Homo sapiens: one gene and its partners. The protein of the gene in region 1 interacts with the protein of each later gene in a pairwise test. Each region holds a gene or a part of one and is shown in the gene's direction. Other genes may lie near its edges. The genes, in order: TMEM98, GOLM1 and STOM.

Region 1 (6,807 bases):
ACAGGCCCATCCTAAAGAGTACCTTGGACTACTTCTAGAATGCTCCGTGCCATAATTCAGCCAGGGTCCTGCTTTGTCCTTTTGCCCTCACACTTCTTTCTCCTTCTGGCCATGTTTTGTCCCCATTGTTTTTCCTGCTCCATTTATCCCACACAGTGTGTTGATGGCCTGTGAGTCTCGAGGAGGTGGCTTCAGCTCCAGGGCACTAGAGAAAGGAGCTGGCTGAGATAGGCGCGGAGGGTGACTGTGTCTCTGCATGTCCTCACCGGCTCCACAGCCGTGAATAAGAGTGTTTGAGGCCATCTTTTTTTCAAGTGCTTTTAGAAATCAAACAATACATCTTTATTTTTTCTTCCTATCGAGTGTTCATGAGCAAAGATTTGGAGCAAAACCTTGTGCCACGCAAATCAGAATGAATTGTAGTTCTGAACTTGATTTAAAAAAATTAACCACAGGGTAGAAGAAATCCAGTAGAGCAGTGTGAAGCCAAATGAAACTCATGGCCTTCTTTTTCGGTGTCTTACATACCTTTAGCTTTGTATTTTTTTTTCCTGAATACAAGAGTAATTAATGCTTATAAAAATGTGAAATACTGCAGACATACATGACCTGGAAAGTCTACTCCCTCCCAATTGTAGGAAAAAACCACTATTAAGTGGTGAGTGTTCCTCCAGATCCTTCCCAACCCCACATTTCAGAGCTTTTGTTTATCTATTTTTATGCAAATGACAGATTGAGCTTTACATATTATTTGGCAATTTGCCTTTTTAATATAGTAGTAATCTTGAACATCATTCCATATGTATGACTGTATTTTAAAAAACCATTGGAACTGAAACAAAACTAGAAAACAAAGTAGTCTCTGCAAAGACTGAACCTGAAGTCTTTGTGCCTAAGTGTCTGTCTGAGAATGCAGAAGCAATTGGAGAAAGAACCATTAAAGACCAGGTCTGGAATACCAAAAAAGAAGAACTGGAATAAAGATAGAAAGGAAGGAAGGGGCCAGGCGTGTGGCTCACGTGCCTGTAATCCCAGCACTATGGAAGGCTGAGGTGGGTGGATCACCTGAGGTCAGGAGTTCAAGGCTAGCCTGGCCAACATGGTGAAACCCCGTCTCTACTAAAAATACAAAAATTAGCTGGGCATGGTGGCGCGTGCCTGTAATCCCAGCTACTTGGGAAGCTGAGGCAGGAGAATCACTTGAGCCTGGGAGGTGGATGTTGCAGTGAGCTGAGATAGCACCACTGCACTCCAGCCTGGGTGACAGAGCGAGACTCTGTCTCAGGAAAAAAAAAAAAAGGAGAAAAGGAGATCAGGAAAGTGAAGTACTGAACACCTTTTGCCTCCGGTCAGGGTGGATGATGTTGTGAAGTCGATGTACCCTCCGTTGGACCCCAAACTCCTGGACGCACGGTGAGACCAGGGGTGGGTGCATGTTCGGTTTTTCATGCAGAGGTCCACAACCGTTTTATCAGATCTGTGAGGCTGGCTGACTGGCTTGTGTAGGGAGGGTGGCTTTGCAGCCTCCTTAGGCTGCCCGGGCCATGCGTGCCATTTACTTCAGTGAGCGGCGCCTGACTGGGTGATAGAGGCCAGTCCTCTCCTGAAACCCAGGAGAAGAAAGAGGCAGTCTTAGATTTTAAATTGTTATGATTAGACTTCCGGCCATGTTACATCCTAACTGTGCCTTCCCTTCTACCTTTTCCCCTTTCCCCCTCTGATTTTTGTACCCCAGAAGCAGACATGCCTTAGCTGTGAGTGCCACCCAGTTGGGCGGTGGGGCAGTGGTTCCCAGAGCAGTGAGAATGGAGGTGACAGGTCAGCCACAGCTGTGCTCACCTGCCACCAGACATGCGCATACACAGAGTGTACTTAGCCCTATGAAATTGTTATGTTCCTATACCAGATGCAACCCATTTAAGAAATATAGATTCTTTCGTGCCTTGGATTTATATGACTGTGTCATACACATGTAACAGTTGCCAGATCGGCAGTGGGTCACAGCGCTTCAGCTTTGGTTTCTCTGCCCCACTCCTACTGCTGCCGAGCTTTGTCCGTGGGTTAATAATCTGTAATGTATTCTCAAATGCATCATGGTACTAACCATATAAAAGGTATTCTACAGTGAATCTTTCAGCACTGAAAAATCTACTCCTCACTTTGGTTTTCAGTTACATTTTTTTTTTTGAGTTGGATAAACCAGCCCTGGGCCTTACCAATTTGTAATCAATAAGGAATGTTTAAGTGAGGGTGTGTCTGTCCTATGTTTCAGTGGGCAGCGGTTGGGGAATATGCTCATCTGATTGACTATATCTGAACTGTTTCACAAAGCGCTCTTTGGGGAGATGTTAATAGGTGTGCTGCAGAAAATGGCTTCCACAGTCTTAAATAAGCTTGTGAGAGACAGCCTGTTATATTCTCCTTGGAGCTTTACCAGGTACATCTCAGAAGGCTCTGAGGCAGGCTTCAGTTAACCATGTTTAACCCAGCCATCTCCAAATTTATTTGAGCATGGAGCCAACTTTAAATTGCATACCTACCAACATCCTAGGGAAGGGTGTGCAGTTTGGGGAATACTAGTCAAAAAGTCTATCTATTTGGGCTTTTGTGCAAAGTCCCTCATTTCCTAGGAAACCTGACCCTATTTTCTTTTTTTCCCTAGGACGACTGCCCTGCTCCTGTCTGTCAGTCACCTGGTGCTGGTGACAAGGAATGCCTGCCATCTGACGGGAGGCCTGGACTGGATTGACCAGTCTCTGTCGGCTGCTGAGGAGCATTTGGAAGTCCTTCGAGAAGCAGCCCTAGCTTCTGAGCCAGATAAAGGCCTCCCAGGCCCTGAAGGCTTCCTGCAGGAGCAGTCTGCAATTTAGTGCCTACAGGCCAGCAGCTAGCCATGAAGGCCCCTGCCGCCATCCCTGGATGGCTCAGCTTAGCCTTCTACTTTTTCCTATAGAGTTAGTTGTTCTCCACGGCTGGAGAGTTCAGCTGTGTGTGCATAGTAAAGCAGGAGATCCCCGTCAGTTTATGCCTCTTTTGCAGTTGCAAACTGTGGCTGGTGAGTGGCAGTCTAATACTACAGTTAGGGGAGATGCCATTCACTCTCTGCAAGAGGAGTATTGAAAACTGGTGGACTGTCAGCTTTATTTAGCTCACCTAGTGTTTTCAAGAAAATTGAGCCACCGTCTAAGAAATCAAGAGGTTTCACATTAAAATTAGAATTTCTGGCCTCTCTCGATCGGTCAGAATGTGTGGCAATTCTGATCTGCATTTTCAGAAGAGGACAATCAATTGAAACTAAGTAGGGGTTTCTTCTTTTGGCAAGACTTGTACTCTCTCACCTGGCCTGTTTCATTTATTTGTATTATCTGCCTGGTCCCTGAGGCGTCTGGGTCTCTCCTCTCCCTTGCAGGTTTGGGTTTGAAGCTGAGGAACTACAAAGTTGATGATTTCTTTTTTATCTTTATGCCTGCAATTTTACCTAGCTACCACTAGGTGGATAGTAAATTTATACTTATGTTTCCCTCAAGTGTGTAGTTATTGAGTCAAATTCATATGCATGGTGTATTGTGGGACATACTTAGATGGAAGGAGAGAGCCTAAGAATCCTGAGGATGATTTCTGTGTATGCCTCAAAATGAGATATTTAGGCTGGGCGCGGTGGCTCACACCTGTAATCCTCGCACTTTGGGAGGCTAAGGTGGGTGGATTGCTTGAGCCCAGGAGTTTGAGACCAGCCTGGGCAACATGGTGAAACCTCATCTCTACACAAACTACAAAAATTAGCTGGGCATGGTGACACGTGCGGCTGCTTGGTAGGCTGAGGTGGGAGGATCGCTTGAGCCCAGGAGGTGAAGGTTGCAGTGAGCCCTGATTGTGCCACTGCATTCCAGCCTGGGCGACAGAGTGAGACCATGTCTCCAAAACATACATATATATAAAATATATTTAAAGACCTCTTGGAGTTCAGGCAGAAGTGAAGATAGCACTATGAAGTAGTTTCCACATTAACAATAGCAATGACTTGAACGATGTGTTCCCCCTTTCTTCTGATATTAATATCTGTTCATTTTGCAAACATTGAAAGATTATGAAAGCTATGACCCAGAATCACAATTATATAATTTGGATACATACCCAAATGGCATAATTTCTGTCATAAGCCTGTAGGAAAAGCTTGAATTCTTCACTTCTCAGATTCTCAGAGCCAGCTTGCTCTTGGGAGAGGGGCCTGGTATAGGGGCTGCCCAGGTTCGTAGCCTATGCTGTCAAGCATGTTTGGAGTTGCACATCTGTTCCCATGTCATTTTCTCTGTCTAACTGAAGTCAGAAAATTCCTCAGCTGGATTCTGGGGAACCAGGAACCCATATTCCCAAATCCAAGATTGGGACCTGGTTTGTCTTTCCATTTGGGCACATTTCATTCTTTCCAGGAAAACAGGCCACTTCCAACCTGCACAATGTACACCAAACCACAGAACCACAGCTGGGATATGGAGTCAGGAGAGGGAAGCTGGAGCTCAACTCTCATGGACTAAAGGATGGATTCTGGATGGGCTCCAGGGGACACCTTATTGGATTGGTGGCTTCCATCAACTCTTAAAAACGTTAAGTGGTGAACTTTCCCGTCCTGTCAAGCTGTGAATGGGGAATGTATACAAAGTCACTTTGACTTTTCTATTTGAGGCCTCCACAGTAAACATCCAGAGTCATCCTATTTTTGTCTTTTTACCTCCCTTTCAGAACCTGTTTTCGTAATTAGACTGGAAAGCAATTCATGCTAAGTTTGCAATGGCTGCCACAGTTGTAAGTGTCCCCTGCATTTTAACCTGCACTAGAGCCCTAAGCCACAGAGAAGCAGTTCTGAATTGGTATCTCAAATACCATCCACCTGGTGTGGGTCTGCAGGGTGGAGAGCTTTCCCAGCACCCCTGAAGCAATGCCCAATGTCGATTACCTTCTCTGAGTCCTGGCAAGTCCTGGCACATTGGCTTTCTGGATCCCTTAGATGCTGCCCTTTCTGTTGTGAGGAGAGGTTGCCGAAGATATTGGAGGTGTCTGCTGGACTGTAGGATTTCTGATCCCACTGCTGTGTAGTTTTTTTTTCTAGTGCTGGACAAGTAAGAAGCCTCTGGATAAATTTGGTGTTGGTGGCTGATGGTTGAAGTGGAAGCAGTCTTTGGGGTAGGAGGCAATGCCACTCCTCTAGGCCCTTCGGGAGTTGGCTGAAGTTACTTCCTCCCTTGGAAGGGGCTGGTTAGTGAGTGCCAGGGATCTCAGGACTGTCTCTGTGCCAGGTGTGGTTTCCCAGGCAACAGACACATTCCTAAGTGCCTAGTTCTCTAGCGTCTGTATACATGGTAGTAGAGCCTTCCTTCCATGTCTCTCTTCCCTCTGGCCTGGAATAGGAGCATTAGACTCAAATTCTGATGAAAAAGAAATTACTTGGAGATAGAGATTCAATGTGAAGAGAACAAGATATTTGAAGTCAGAATTAGGTTTGAATTTGGGCTCAGTGACTTACAGTGTGAGCTTGGTCAAGTTCTTAACATTCTGGTCCTTAGCATTCTCATCTGTATGGTCAAGGCTATTGTCATTGGGTTGGTATGTCAACAAGCAAAACGGTATGTGTGAGCTGCCCAATTGTGGGCCTGGTTCTGATTAGCCAATGTTAACACCCTTCTCTCCACAGCTTCCCATTCTCTGATGCCGCTGACCCAGATGGCGTCACCTCAGTTACCATGGCTTGGTCCAAGCAGTGACTTCTGTTCATGGGCTCTGGAATTGAGTGGCCAAAAATCTGGAATCCCTACAGTAGGGAGAGTAGCCTTGTCCCTGCCCCACTACAAGTCTGTTCATATGAAGACATACAAAGCCGTCGCCTCTAATCAGTGTTCAAAGGGTCGATTGTGCAACTCACATTCCTCCAGAGAAATTCCCCCAGCTTGTGAGATCTCCAAGAGGGAACACGTATTCCTGGCATCCAACTTCCCCTGGTGCTCCCCCTGACCTGCCTCATTCCAGGAGTTCCCTCTCCAGAGACCCTGTGTGCCCACACGAGCAGACTTTTAGAAAATGGCCTACAGTTCAAAGGCCCTGCATTGCTTTATGGCCTTGGAAATGTGGGGAAAGTGTCAGATGAAGAATTTCTATCCTCCTCACCTCCTCCCTGTCTCCAATAAATGCATACCAAGAGCTTTCTGTGGAAGAGGGTTCGTGCTAGATGCTGGAGCTATGAAACAAAAGGCACAATCCCTGCCCTTAAGGAGCGATAGAGAAATGAGCAACTGCTGGAGCCATGACTGTAGCCAGTGCTGTGATGGAGGGGACCACAAGAGGGACTGTGGGCACACAGAGAAGGGACAGGGCAGGGGTGGGGTTGAAATAGGGCAGAGCTGCTGCCTGAATGGAGACTTGACAAAGAAGGAGTCAGGCATCAGAACAGAAAATGGTCCCAGCTACTCAGGTGGCAGGGGCAGGAGGATCGCTTGAGCCTGGGTTGGGTGGAGGCTGCAGTGAATCTTGATAGAGCCACTGCACTCTAGCTTGGGCAACAGAGCAAGACCCTGTCTCAAAACACACACATGTACACACACACAGAAAGTGCCGGGGGAAATAATATGGTTGTGCTGTGTTTGTTCTGGTGGGTCTTACTGTGTTTCTATGAGAAAGGCTGATGAGCAATTTTCAGAATTTGAGGCAAAACTGGTTCTTCCTGTTTCATCCTATTTGTATTTTTATTATCCCAATTTTGCAGGTAAGGAGACCAAAGCAGAAAGATCAGTAACCCTCCTGGAGTCTCACAATTAA
Region 2 (7,045 bases), on another chromosome or scaffold:
CCTCCAGCCCCGCTTCACAAGCTCAGGGCTTTACGGGAATTATCGTATTTAAAGCTCGCAGCCAGCCTGGGAGAGAGTTGCTGTTTTCCTGACTTGAGGACCCCAGCCCCATGGGAGGGGTTAAGTTCTGTGGCCAGTGTCACACCACCTGGTCAGTGGTAGAGCCCATCAAGACCTCAGGTCTGGCCGACTCCATGTCTCGTGCTGTCATTCCACCTCCTGTGCAGAGCACAGCCCACGAAGCTGCTGCTTGAAGCCTTCTGGGTGATCTTTGAGTAGTTTTTTAAAAATATAGCAGCTTTATTAAGATATAATTTGCATTCCCTATGATTCACCCATAGAAAATTTACAATTCATGGGTTCTGAGTATATTCACAAAGTTATGCAGCCATCACCACAGTCAATTTCAGAACATTTTTATTGGCACAAAAGAAACCGTGTATCCCTTAGTTCTCTCTTCAGTCCCCACAGCCCTAGACAGCCAACTGCTAATGTACTTTGTGTCTCTTGATTTGCCTAATCTGGACAATTTCCTGTCAATAGAATCATATATGTGTGGCCTTTTGTGTCTGACTTTTTTTTTTTTTTTTTGAGAGGGCATCTCGCTCTCTCACCCAGGCCAGAGTGCAGTGGCGCGATCTCAGCTCACTGCAGCCTCTGCCTCCCAGGTTCAAGCGATTCTCCTGCCTCAGCCTCCCGAGTAGCTGGGATTACAGGCACCCACCACCACACCTGGCTAATTTTTGTATTTTTAGTAGAGACGGGGTTTCATCATGTTGGCCAGGCTGGTCTTGAACGGCTGACCTCAAGTGATCCACCCACCTCGGCCTCCCAAAGTGCTGGGATTACAGGCGTGAGCCACCACGCCCGGACTGTCTGGTATCTTTGACTGAGTATGAATACCTCAGGGCTCATCGGGGTTGCAGCATGTGTCTGTACTGCATTCCCTTTAATGGCTGATTAATCCATCCTGTGGATAGACCACATGTGGATTATTCATCATCAGTTGATGGGCATTTGGAGTGTTTCCATGTTTTGGCTATTATGAATAATGCCGTATGAACATGAAGCTTTTGTGTGGTCATATGTTTTCATTTCTCTTGGTTAATACCTAGGAGTGGAACTGCTGGGTTATATGGTAATCTATATTTAACCTATTGAGGAACTCCCAGACTTCTTCCAAAGTGGCCATACCATTTTCGACTGCCACCAGTAGTTTATGAGGGCTCCAGTTTCTTCACATCCTTGCCAACTCTTGATACTACCTTTTTCATGATACCCTTCCTAGCAGGTGTGGAGTGGCAGCTCGTTGTTTGGGTTTGCATTTCCCTAATAACTGTGATATCCCTGATGATATTCAGCATCTTTTCACATGTTTCATTGGCCATTTGTATATCTTCTTTGAAGAAATGTCTATTTGGGTCCTTTGCTCATTTTTTAATTGAGTTATTTTTATTATTGAATTGTAAGAGTTTTTAAAATCTATTTTATTAAAGATATATGATAATGGATATATGATTTGCAAGTTTTTTTTCCCAATTCTGTGGGGTTTTTCACTTTCTTGCTGGTGTTTAGTTGAAGCACAGAAGTTCTTAATTTTGACAAAATCCCCATTTTATTTATTTTTTCTTTTGTTGTGTGTTCTTGGTATTATATCTAGTAACACTTTGCCTGACCCAAGATCTTGAAGATTTACTGTTACATTTTCTTCTCAGAGTTTTATCGTTCTTAGTTCTTACGTTTAAGCCTGTGATTCATTTTCAGTTAATTTAATTATTGCATATGGTGTGAGGTAGAGCTCCCACTTCATTCTTGTGTGTGTGCGGTTATCAAGTTGTCTCAGTAATCACTTGTTGAAAGAAAGACTGCTTTTCCCCCACTGAATTGTCTTGGCACCTTTGTCAGAAATCAGTGTGCTGTAAGTATGAGGGTTTTTAGTGAGCCTGAGTGTTTTAGTGAGCCTGAGTCCCTTGGCTGTGAATGTCCCCTATGCTTCTCTTCAGTACCCACTCCCTACCCCAGTGGGACAAAGTGGCTGGAATGGGCTGGAGTTGAGTAGCTTCCTTCTCCCACGTGGAAGTCTAGAGCTTACTGGAGTTGGGTGTTTCATTCCCCCAGGTCAGTTAGGCTCAGATAATATGCCCGCAGGAGCTCTGGGTAATGCGCTCCTCGTGAGGGCCGGCCTGGTTAAGGAGAATAGAGCACTCTGGCCTGTTTCAGAATGGTTCCTTTCCCCGCCACACTGCTGGAAGCACAAGCCGATTTTTCTCTGATGTTCACTGAGAGCCTTTCTCTAATATTCACTGAGAGCCTGGTTGAGCTCCTAGGGGTAAAACTCATAAGTATGGGAGTCCCTTATGACTGGGGCAGGTTTTTTCTTTTTCTTTTTTTTTTTTTTCTTTTGGTGTTGGAGTTTTGCTTTTATCGCCCAGGCTGGAGTGCAATGGCGCAATCTTGGCTCACCACAACCTCTGCCTCCCGGGTTGAAGCAATTCTCCTGCCTCAGCCTCCCGAGTAGCTGGGATTACAGGCATGCGCTACCACACCTGGCTAATTTTGTATTTTTTAGTATATCGGGGTTTCTCCATGTTGGTCAAGCTGGTCTTGAACTCCCGACCTCAGGTGATCAGCCCGTCTCAGCCTCCCAAAGTACTGGCATTACAGGCATTAGCCACCACGCCTGGCTGGGGCAGGTTTTTAACTCTCAGACTCATCCACACTGAGCCTCAAACAGTTCATAAATGACAGGGTCAGGCTCTCCCACCCTGACACCAGTTCCCGTGGTGATGTCTGCCCAAGCCTGTCCTGGTGAGCCGGGACTCTCTGTATTGGGCTGTCTGTCTCCAGGCTTAAGGACAGTGATTTACACTCTGTCCTCACCTCTCCTATGGATCCAAGAAGAGCTGATAACTTTTCAGTCTGTTTAGTTTTTTACTTGTTAGGACTAAGTGGTGACTTTTAAGCTTCTCACGTGAGGAACAGAAAACTGGAAGTCTTCTAATACAGATGCTTGAAGGTGTACATTTCTTCTAAGCACTGCTGGAGCTGCTTCCCATAAGTTTTGGTATGCTGTGTTTTTGTTTTGTGGCAAAGCATTTTCTTTTTTTTTTTTTTTTTTTTGAGAGACAGTCTCGCTCTGTCGCCCCAGGCTGGAATGCAATGGCATGATCTTGGCTCACTGCAACCTCCACCTCCCAGGTTCAAGCGATTTTCCTGCCTCAGCTGGAAATCACCTCCTTGCCTCACCTCCCAAGTAGCTGGAATCACAGGTGCCTGCCACCACACCTGGCTAATTTTTGTATTTTTAGTAGAGATGGGGTTTCACCATGTTGGCAAGGCTGGTCTCAAACTTCTGACCTCTGGTGATCTGCCTGCCTCGGCCTCCCAAAGTGCTGGGATTACAGGTGTGCGCCACCGCGCCTGGCTGTCCAAGCATTTTCTAATTTGTGTTGTGGTTTATTGTTGGACTCACTGGTTATTTAGGAGTGTGTTGTTTAATTTCCAAATATTTGCAAATGTCATAAGTTTCATCCTGTTATTGATTTATAATCCATTCCATTTCTATTAATTTACTTTGTGTGATTTTAGTTAAATATTTAAGTGTATGGAGGCTTGCTTTGTGGCCTGCCATTTGTCCATCCTGGAAAATATTGTGTGTGTGCCTGAGAAGCAGGTGTGTTTGCCCTTGCTAGGCTGAGGGTTCTGCAGATGTTTGTTTCGTCAAGGAGTATTGTGTCGTTCATGTCTTTTTTGTTGTTGATCTTCCGCCTAGGTATTTTATTATTCCGTAAATGCTTCCTCTCAGCAGAATCACTGCCCAGTTTTATTCTGTATTGACAGTACTTTCTGGGAGACCTTGACTCAACCTCTTGTCTTCTGATTTACGCCACATGACCAGGGCGTGACCAGAGTAGACTGTGGCGTTTCTCGGGGTCTTGGTTGGAAGGATATGGTGGTGGGATTGGTGGGATTCATTGCATTGGTAGGATTCTTTTACGGCTTCTGTTCACAGAGCCCTGCCCTGGCTGGCTGTCCTGTGCTTCTGTTTCAGCTCCAAGCCCTCAGTGAGCCTCAGCCCAGGCTGCAGGCAGCAGGCCTGCCACACACAGAGGTGCCACAAGGGAAGGGAAACGTGCTTGGTAACAGCAAGTCCCAGACACCAGCCCCCAGTTCCGAAGTGGTTTTGGATTCAAAGAGACAAGTTGAGAAAGGTAAGCAGAGCCCAGCAGTTGCCCTGTTCCCAGCTCTCCAGAGCCCCATCAGAGGAAGCAGTCCCAGCGAGCTGCTGAGGCAGTCAGTGAACCCGGCAGCGGCGCAGCCAGGAGCAGGGACGTGTCTCTCTGGGCCCCTGGAATTGGGGCTTTGGGGCTTCTCTGACAGATGTCTCCTCCTTGTAAACGAAGTGCCTTGTTCCTGGGCAGCTGTGTAGAGAAAGGCCCAGGCTGCACCTTTATGCAGGACATTGGTGGGCTTGTGGGACTCGGGGGAGGCGGCTGAGCCCCAGACACTGGGAACCAGGAGGCTGCTGTGTCTGTGAGCAAGCCCTGGGTGGGCCTGCCTGCCCTGGCTCCCAAGTGCTTGCTCCAGCGGACCCGATGATCAGGTCACTCAGCAGGATACCCTTTTCCCTTTGTACCTTGTCAAGGTAATTTAGTCCAGGTGTTTTTTTTTTTTTGTTTTGTTTTTTTTTTTGGTAAGCTACTTTTCCCTTTGTCGCGGTTCTGACGATGAGCTGCAGGCACAGAAAGGCCTGCAGTCTGTGGCTGAGGTCACAAAAGGAGCTACCTGGTTGTTCTCCTGTGTGCAGCCCACCCCACCCCCACTCCTTGGGAAGGCTCTGGGAATTGAGTGGCACCAGGTTTTGCTTTTTTTTTTTTTTTTTTTTTTAAATCAAATGCTGGCAAGGTCACAGCTAACTGTGTTCTGTGCACAGAGGAAACCAATGAGATCCAGGTGGTGAATGAGGAGCCTCAGAGGGACAGGCTGCCGCAGGAGCCAGGCCGGGAGCAGGTGGTGGAAGACAGACCTGTAGGTGGAAGAGGCTTCGGGGGAGCCGGAGAACTGGGCCAGACCCCACAGGTGCAGGCTGCCCTGTCAGTGAGCCAGGAAAATCCAGAGATGGAGGGCCCTGAGCGAGACCAGCTTGTCATCCCCGACGGACAGGAGGAGGAGCAGGAAGCTGCCGGGGAAGGTGGGTGTGAAGTTTCGGGGGCCGCTGTGGACTCCCTTCCACCAGACACCCAGCCCACCTCCATGTCCTTCCCAGCACCAACATATCACCCTGAATTTTACCAAACAGCAGTCCACAATTTGCCAATTCCTTTTCGTTTGAAGGTTTCTTATTCGTTATCAAGAGGGAGGCAGGAAGGAAGAGCAGCATATGCTCTAGAACTCGAGGTTTTAGATGCAATATTGGCAGGGAGTCGAGGGGACCTTGCAAGTGGATGGCCTGCAGATGGGTGCTTAGCATCAAGTGGACGCCCCCTCCTGGCAGGCAGGCCACATGCCCCATTTTTGTATGTCCACCGTCGTGCAGTGTCTGGTGCCATTTAGACAATCAGTGCCTAGTGAATGAATGAAGGAAGGAAGGAAGGAATATTGGGTAGATGAAGGTTAATGCATATGTGAACATTGAGAAAAAATGACATGTGAATCACTCCTTTTTGGTTTGGTTGACTCTTTTCTTTTTAAAGAAATAAAGGGTAGGAATTGGAGATCAACCGACTATTCCAGGATGTATTTCAGTCCCTTCAGATATGGAAAATGTCCTTCCCACCTGAGCCAGGAACACTTCTGAGGACATGACACCTGCGCTCTGGGGTGGACCAAGTCACAGAAGTTGGAGAATACACTTATTTGCAGAAGTTACCTTGATTCCATTTAAATCTAATTTTCACTTCAGTGTCTTACTGAAGAACGTGTCCTTCCAAGTTCCAGTTAAAGAATTGGATTTTGTCAGCCTCCCCCTAAGTATCCCTGCTCTGTCCTTGTGTTCCGTGCTCACCCAGCAAGAAGATGCTTGTGGTGTGTGAGGCGGGGAGATCTCACTGGCTCGCTCAGCCTGTGGCGCTCCAGTGTCAGACCCCTCAGCGGCTGGTCACAAAGCGTAACAAAGGTGGGCCTGAGATGCCACAGTGCCTGCAGGATGCACCTGCTTCTAGATGCAGGTGTGGTGACCTCATTTGAAGAAACGCGGTGGACACATAGGCCTGTGCAGTTTCCACCCCAGGCAGTGAGCCAGAGAAAGAGACTAGAGCTGCTTTTCCAGGTGTGCACTTTTAAAAAAGATTTTGTTTGGCCGGGCGCAGTGGCTCATGCCTGTAATCCCAGCACTTTGAGAGGCCGAGGTGGGCGGATCATGAGGTCAGGAGTTCAAGACCATCCTGGCCAATATGGTGAAACCCCATCTCTTCTAAAAATACAAAAATTAGCTGGGCATGGCAGCACGTGCCTGTAATCCCAGCCACTCGGGAGGCTGAGGCAGGAGAATCGCTTGAACCCCGGAGGCGGAGGTTGCAGTGAGCCGAGATTACGCCACCGCACTCCAGCCTGGGCGACAGAGTGAGACTCCATCTCAAAAAAAAAAAAAAAAAGATTTTGTTTACCAGCCTGCATACACATATAAAATATGTAAGTTAAACCCTTTGAGTAGGTCTCTTGAAAGCCTTTTGTCCTCATCTTCTCTGGCTGCTGCCCACTCCAGGGAAGAATAGAGTAATGGGTGCTCTCATGCTCTAAGTATGAGGGACACCTTCTCACGTGTCTCACAGTGGCAGCTCCATTTCCTCTCTCCATTCTAAGGAGATGCTGTCATTAGCTGTAGATATCCGTTCCTTCCTAAAACAGTGGCACCTTTCTTTTATCTTGAGTTGATTATCTCTTTAAAAAATTGAGATTTGGGTTGTTAGTTTCTCCATGTTCTGCCTAGAATGCACCCTTGTATTTAGGGCCATGCTGTCTGTAGATTCCGAGTCCAAGTGGAGTACACATAATGCATGTGCTTGTCCTGGAAGCCAGCCCTTGCGTCCCTACCATTTCCAGAGAG
Region 3 (7,144 bases), on another chromosome or scaffold:
AGCACTGTTTTCCTCTGAGCTTAGACTTGGCCTCAGAACCCTTCTATAGCACTCTGGGTAACAACCCTCAACTGCTTAGAGTTAGCTCTAAAAAACAAAACTTGAGGCCAAGCACAGTGGCTCACGTCTGTAATCCCAGCACTTTGGGAGGCTGAGGTGGGTGGATCACCTGAGGTGAGGAGTTCAAGACCAGCCTGGCCACCATGGTGAAACCCCGTCCTTACTAAAAATACAAAGAGTAGCCTGGTGTGGTGGTAGGCGCCTGTAATCCCAGCTACTGGGGAGGCTGAGAAGGAGAATTGCTTGAACCCTGGAGGTGGAGGTTGCAGTGAGCTGAGATTGCGCCACTGCACTTCAGCCCAGGCGACAGAGCAAGACTTCTTCTCAAAAAAATTAAATTAAATAAAAAATTAATAATAATAAAAACTTAAAAAAAAATGAAACTTGTTTGCCATCCCACTATTCAAAGGAAAAATTGAAGCTCTGAAAAGTTAAGTGACGTCCGCAAGGTCGCACAGTTGATTAGTAGCAGTGGAAATTAGAATTCCCCTCTGCTCCTCATTGCCTCCTCTAGTACTGACTTCCCAGGATGGGCTATGAGCCTCTTCCATAGCATTCTTAAGAGTTTGGAAAGAAAATTTCTATCTTCCCTTTATAACAGTAAGAAAAGATAGAAGAAACCGCTTAGAATTCTGAATTGCCATGCTCCCACTTGGACGGGGCTGTAGGGTTAGTCTAGAAGCAGTCTCATGAACCTGGGCAGTGACTGTCTTGGAGTTCACACATAGAATCACAATGAGCCTAGCCCTTCTGTAAAATACAGTAACCCTGCAACAACCATAGGCTTATTGTATTGAAATTCTCATGGAAAATAGGGGGGTCACAGTTTCTTCAACAAATAAATTGCACAGGAAAGGTGAGATAGAGTGGAATAATCTAAAGATTAAGAGACTTTATAGAAAAATTCCTTAGGCTAATTAGCCATCGGGGAAATGCAAATTCACATTATAAGCGGATGTCACACTAGACAGCTATCAGAATGGCCTGAAAAGAACGGAAAAGAACCAAGTGTGGGTGAGAGAGGAACTAGAACTCTCATATTCTGCTGGTGGCAGTGTAACTTAATACAACCACTGTGGAAAACAGTCTGGCAATGTCTATTCATACTGAACATTTGTATACCCTATGAGCCAGCAGCTCCAACTCCTAAGTATGAATCTAACAGAAATGCACTCATATGTTTACCAAAAGGCATGTACTAGAATGTTCACAGCAGCACATTGACCCAAACTGTAGAATACCCAAATGTCCATTCCTAGCTGAATGAATGAAGTCTGGTTTATTCACATGTAGGCATACTACATAGCAAAGAGAATGAATGTAAGTGCTCACACACATAATTTGAGTGAAAGAAGCCGGTCACAGAAGAGGACAGATTCTCCTACGTGTTTCTCTGTATGTTAGGTTTGGTTTTTAAAGTGTTTAGACCAGCTCTTAGTGGCCTGAAATGTAATATCTTTTGTGTTTGCATCAGCTTTTATTTCCTTTTCATAACTCTCAGAAAAACACCTGGCACATGCTTTTGGGCTCATGTTTCTGGGTGTAGAAGTCTATTAATTGAGAGGATGGAGTGCAGAAATACAGATCACCTTTCTCTGCCTTTTCCTCTGCCCAGACCACCTGGTCTGCAGAAGGGACAGGTAGCACCAATTTCACATACATGAAAATGCCAGACTTTAAAATGATGTTCTATAAATATGAAATGTTGATTGCTATGAGATTACTGCACATTCGACAAAAGCCGTGCACACCCACAAATAGCTTGCTTTGCTCTCTAAGATCCTATCAACGGAGTGTACTTGGCCTGTATTTAGACAAAGCCGGTGGTGTTGTTTACATCTTTGGCAGCTTGCTCAGTGTGGCTTTTCTATGAACAAAATGTGTGCCCAGCCCGGTGGGTCTGGCTTCTCAGCCAAGCGATTGTGTATTGATTGGTGGTGGGAAATGAGATATCTTTTCAGTTGGTCCATGTCCAAAGAAAAAAGTGCCTAATTGGACATCTGAGATGATATGGAAAAAATGAGAGCCTGCTGCTCTCATAGCAGGGGATTTCTGATGTATTCTCTGTAGTGCCTACCTTGGAATACAGTTCTGTGGTTTTCTTTGAGCAAAGCTGGCACTTGTCCCTTCTCACAGACCTAGGCAGGACATGATGTGTGGCTTTGATAAATTAAGGTTTTTATCCTATAAGCTGGATCCTTTCTCTCAGTGAGTACTATATTCTGTATCCTATCTCCATTAATGGCACTAATCTATGCAACCAAAACCTGGAAACCTGGGTCTCAGCCTGTGTCCCCCTTTCCTCCTCCTACCTAGTCTCCAAATTCCACTGATTCGCCCTCCTTCGGGGAGGGAGAATAGCTCCCCAAACCATTTCATTCTCTGTCCCCACCACCTATGAATCGCACCGGCCACTCTAAAGCAGTTCCACTAGCAGCTTTCACTGCCTTCTCTTCTAACCTCAGACATCTGTCAGAGAGCTTTTTCAAACTAGATCTGATGGAGTTTACTTACCTGCTTAAAATCATTCTGCAGCTTCCCATTGCCTACAGAATGAAGACCAAACACCCTGGCCCTCACTGCCCTTCAGAACCCGGCCCCATTCATCCCCCACCTTTCCCCTCTTCCTGCCATAGTATTCAGCCATTGACAGTTTTCTGGAATATACCATTTTTATACCTCAGTACCGTTTCATGTGTTCTGCCCAAAATATTCTTCCTCATCTTTTTCTAAACAGCAAACATTTTATCATTTAATATTCAACTTCTATAACCTCACCACGTCACCCTCTGGAAAAGTTGCTTTCTTCTGTTTGCTTGCACTGTGCCTTGTACATATGTCTGTCAGCATTTATCACACTAGAATGAAATGATCTACTTCCATGTCTGCCTTCCCTACCTGACCAGGAGCTGAAGAAGGCTAGGGATTCCACTCTATCCTTAGCTTTTCCTACACAGGGCTTATTAACCCTAGAAGGCCCCCAAATTTTGCTGTGTGAGTGAATGAAATCTCACTGGGCATAAGACCATCACCTCCAATTCTGATATTCATGGAGTATTATGGACCATTAATTATTCAAGATTCAAGTGAGGATAATAACCTGGAGAAATTGTACTTTTAATCTTGATAATTATGGTGTCTTAATACCTTTCCTTCTTCTAGGATTATGAATTAAAGTAACTACCTTGAATCTTTTGTGCATTAAAGCATAGTTGGACCCAAAAATCAGGTCTTGTCACTTGCCATTCCTCTATAATAGCCCCCTTTATTCATTTAACACTTTATATACTTTCTCTGTCTTCCTCACAAGTGGTCCTCTGAAGTACATGTTAGTCTGCTTTAAGAATGGGAAACTGAGGTTCAGGATGTTCAGTAACCTCTCTGAGGACATTCGGCTGGTAAATGTTAGATTTGGGATTTGAACTCAAGTCCATTTGACTCCAGAACTCCTGTTCTGTCTACTACTCGAGTGATCTTCAAACTTTTTTGCCTGTGAAACCCCTTACAGAATTTAGAAAAACTATAAAGTCCATCAAACATTTTAAATCGGCATGTAAAAATTTTTCATCTTGAATTTATGTACTTGCCAAGAATATAATTCCTGGCATGTTGTAAATATTGACATTTTTAAATAAAACTGTTAACATCATTCTTTTAAATGTACCCAATGAGAAATAATAATGATTTAGTTATCCATTAAAAATATGTAAGTAAACTCTTAACAGTCAGGAGCTTTTTATTGTTTTTTTCTTCTTCTTCTTAAACCTAAGTTTTTTATTGCATCTTCACTTCCGCCAGATTCTTTTCCTAACATACATTTTGTCATGAATTATTTTATTAACATACTGCAACATATTTAGTCCATAAGTTAGAATTAATTTTTAAAAATTTCCTGTAACTAAAAACAAGGTTCTACAAACATTTCAGAATTTCTCCTAAATAAGAAGTCAATTTTTTTTTTTTTTTTTGAGACAGATTCTCATTCTGTCAGCCAAGCTGGAGTGCAGCAGTGGCATGATCTCGGCTCACTGCAACCTCCCGGGTTCGAGCAATTCTCCTGTCTCAGCCTCCCAAGTAGCTGGGTTTACAGGTGCTTGCCACAACGCCCAGCTAATTTTTGTACTTTTAGTAGAGATAGGGTTTTGCCATGTTGGCCAGGCTGGTCTCGAACTCCTGACCTCAAGTGATCTGCCCGCCTTGGCCTCCCAAAGTTTTGGGATTACAGGTGTGAGCCACTGCACCCAGTACCAGAAGTCAATTTTTACTAGAAATGCTTGTCTTTATAAGATGAATGAGAATTAAATCGTACATGTATAGATGGCTGTTGTTTAATGCTAGAATGAGACACGATTCAGCATCAATTTTATTCCTATTTTTCATTTTTATAGCTATAAGGACTTTGAAACCTTATTTACATAAATAAGTAGATGGAAATGGAAGTTCTGTTTAAAGTAGTATCATACAGTTCTTAGCACTTTGAATTTATGTGCTAAAAAAATCATATCACAGTCTTTCATCAAAAAATATTTATAATGACCTGTCAGCTTTCAGTTTAGTAAGGTACTCATCAGAGAATTGGAAATGCTGCTGACTTGCAAAAGGATTTGCCTGCAGTCATTAAAGTTACTTGCTTTCTCAATCCTGCACAGTATTTTGAATTATCCCTTTGTTTGTTACCCTGGAAAATGGGAGAAAGGCTATAGTAAAAGAGAATGTCTTGATCCAGGCACTAGTCAGGCAAGTCAGTTTCAGAAAAAGAAGCATATGGAAACTGAGTATGTAGAAATTGATTTTCTTAAAACTACTCTGGCATACGCCCTAGAAAGTTTTGTGGACCACCTGAGGTATACATACCCCCGGTTGAAGAGTGCTGTGTGTCCCCATGAGGTTTTCTCCAGTTCAACCCCTCCTTTCACCTGTCCATAGGTTATTGCAGCCGAAGGAGAAATGAATGCATCCAGGGCTCTGAAAGAAGCCTCCATGGTCATCACTGAATCTCCTGCAGCCCTTCAGCTCCGATACCTGCAGACACTGACCACCATTGCTGCTGAGAAAAACTCAACAATTGTCTTCCCTCTGCCCATAGATATGCTGCAAGGAATCATAGGGGCAAAACACAGCCATCTAGGCTAGTGTAGAGATGAGCGCTAGCCTTCCAAGCATGAAGTCGGGGACCAAATTAGCCTTTAACTCATAAAGAGAGGGTAGGGCTTTTCTTTTTCCATATGTCAATTGTGGTGTTCCCAGAATGTATAGCAGTTATAAAAATAGGTGAAAGAATTGTTAGCTTGTAAATACTGAGAGATTGGTGATTTATATAAGGTAATCTGTTAGTCTTAAAATAGTTAAAAGTTTGTATTTTTAGATTATTATGTAGTAGGTTAGATCCCTCTTGTTTTGACTTCCACTGACTCATTCTGAACCCCCTAAGCACCCAGGCCAGAGGCAAGAACCTGGGCTGTAACTGCCACCTGACACCGCTGACTGGCTAAATGCTTTGCAGAAAGTGATGACCTTACACCACAACCAGCTTCTCCAGGTCATATGTGCCTTACCTCCAGAGAGTCTTTTTTTTTTTTTTTCTGAGATGGAGTTTCACTCTTGTTGCCCAGGCTGGAGTGCAATAGCATGATCTCGGCTCACTGCAACCTCCGCCTCCTGGGTTCAAGAGATTCTCCTGCCTCAGCCTCCCCAGTAGCTGGGATTACAGGCTCATGCCACCATGCCCAGCTAATTTTTGTATTATTATTATTGTTTTTTAGTAGAGACGGGGTTTCACCATGTTGGCCAGGCTAGTCACGAACTCCTAACCTCAGGTGATCCACCCACCTCTGCCTCCCAAAGTGCTGGGATTACAGGCATGAGCTACCACACCTGGTTTGGAGAGTCTTAATTAAGGAAATTTCCCTAATGTTCATTTATTTTCTAAATCCAGACCGTGTTTCAGAATAATCCTTACTTGAGAGTAGCCATTTTCTTGCCTGTACTTGTCAGAACTAGAGGAAATAGCCAAGACTAATGAAAAAGATTACTCTAACCCTTAAAAGACTTTTAAATTCACTACTAGAGTGGTCATTTTAAAAATACATCCATGTTTTAACTTATTTGAGCCTTCTTTATGAGTAAATGATTCCTCCTTGTTCTGTCTTTCAAACCAGCTAAATATTTGTCACAAAAGTGCTTTTTTCTCACTGTTGCCTATTTTCATATATCAGGTTTTAAATAGTTTTAATTTTTTAATAAAATTTTCTCTACGTTCTATATGCAATTGTTATATATCTATTTGAATAGCTGAAGGACTAAAATACTTTTTTAAGAGATAACTTCAGGAAACCATTATATTTTACTATCTGCATGCTGTTAACTGTGGTACACTGTGAAATATGTTGATTACAAACCCATTCATTACATAGTATAAGGAATTCACAGTATATTGACTATATAGTGTCTAATGATCTTGGGCAGATACTGTCAAACTTACAATATCTATATAGATGTAGGTCTTTTTAAATTTACCTAGTCATTCTTCTATCATGTATATTGATGCTGAAAGAGGAACTGGTCAGCTCCTCTGGACAACAAATTCTTAGTCTATAATATTAGGAGACATCTTCTGTTTTGCAAATGTCTGTGAATCTGAGCAACCTGGCATTCTGCTTACTGGCCAGAAAGCTGGCGGGTGACATTTGTAACATTTCCTCTTTGAGACTCTGAGTTCACCTAGAGAAGTCTAAGCATAACAGCTTTCTTTCCCAGCACGAGCCTTTATAGCTCTCTTTAGCTCAACCACTCTGTCCATCCAGCCAATGGATGTCCCTTCCCCTGTACCCCAATTTCAAGCTTATTTTAGGAAGCCTTGAACTACCATGTATCCTGGCTCCTAGCTGAGTTTATTAGAGGTATGGAGCAGTGCAACTTAAACTCAAGTTGCACTTACATTTTGAATTTTAAAATGATGGTTTTATCTGTTGTGTGAAGTGGTTCACCCTTGAGGACCAGGAGCCTCCATATCCTGACTGAAAACCTTTTCTGAGACTTAGAGTAACAGTGCTTTTGGTTCCTTGAGTTCTCCTGTCTCCAGATA

Evidence for each region.
Region 2: the proteins of TMEM98 (region 1) and GOLM1 interact in binary tests that used the Homo sapiens proteins (3 or more experiments, as listed by UniProt).
Region 3: the proteins of TMEM98 (region 1) and STOM interact in binary tests that used the Homo sapiens proteins (3 or more experiments, as listed by UniProt).

The regions. Positions count from the first base shown.
Region 1 is NC_000017.11:32,938,124-32,944,930, forward strand, and holds the end of TMEM98 (transmembrane protein 98), read left to right. Parts: intron 1-1,353; coding exon 1,354-1,413; intron 1,414-2,662; coding exon 2,663-2,870; 3' UTR 2,871-6,192; downstream 6,193-6,807. UniProt on the Homo sapiens protein: Functions as a negative regulator of MYRF in oligodendrocyte differentiation and myelination. Interacts with the C-terminal of MYRF inhibiting MYRF self-cleavage and N-fragment nuclear translocation.
Region 2 is NC_000009.12:86,033,514-86,040,558, reverse strand, and holds part of GOLM1 (Golgi membrane protein 1), read left to right. Parts: intron 1-4,051; coding exon 4,052-4,211; intron 4,212-4,933; coding exon 4,934-5,191; intron 5,192-7,045.
Region 3 is NC_000009.12:121,339,251-121,346,394, reverse strand, and holds part of STOM (stomatin), read left to right. Parts: intron 1-4,986; coding exon 4,987-5,193; 3' UTR 5,194-6,753; coding exon of another isoform or gene 6,754-6,774; 3' UTR 6,775-7,144. UniProt on the Homo sapiens protein: Regulates ion channel activity and transmembrane ion transport. Regulates ASIC2 and ASIC3 channel activity.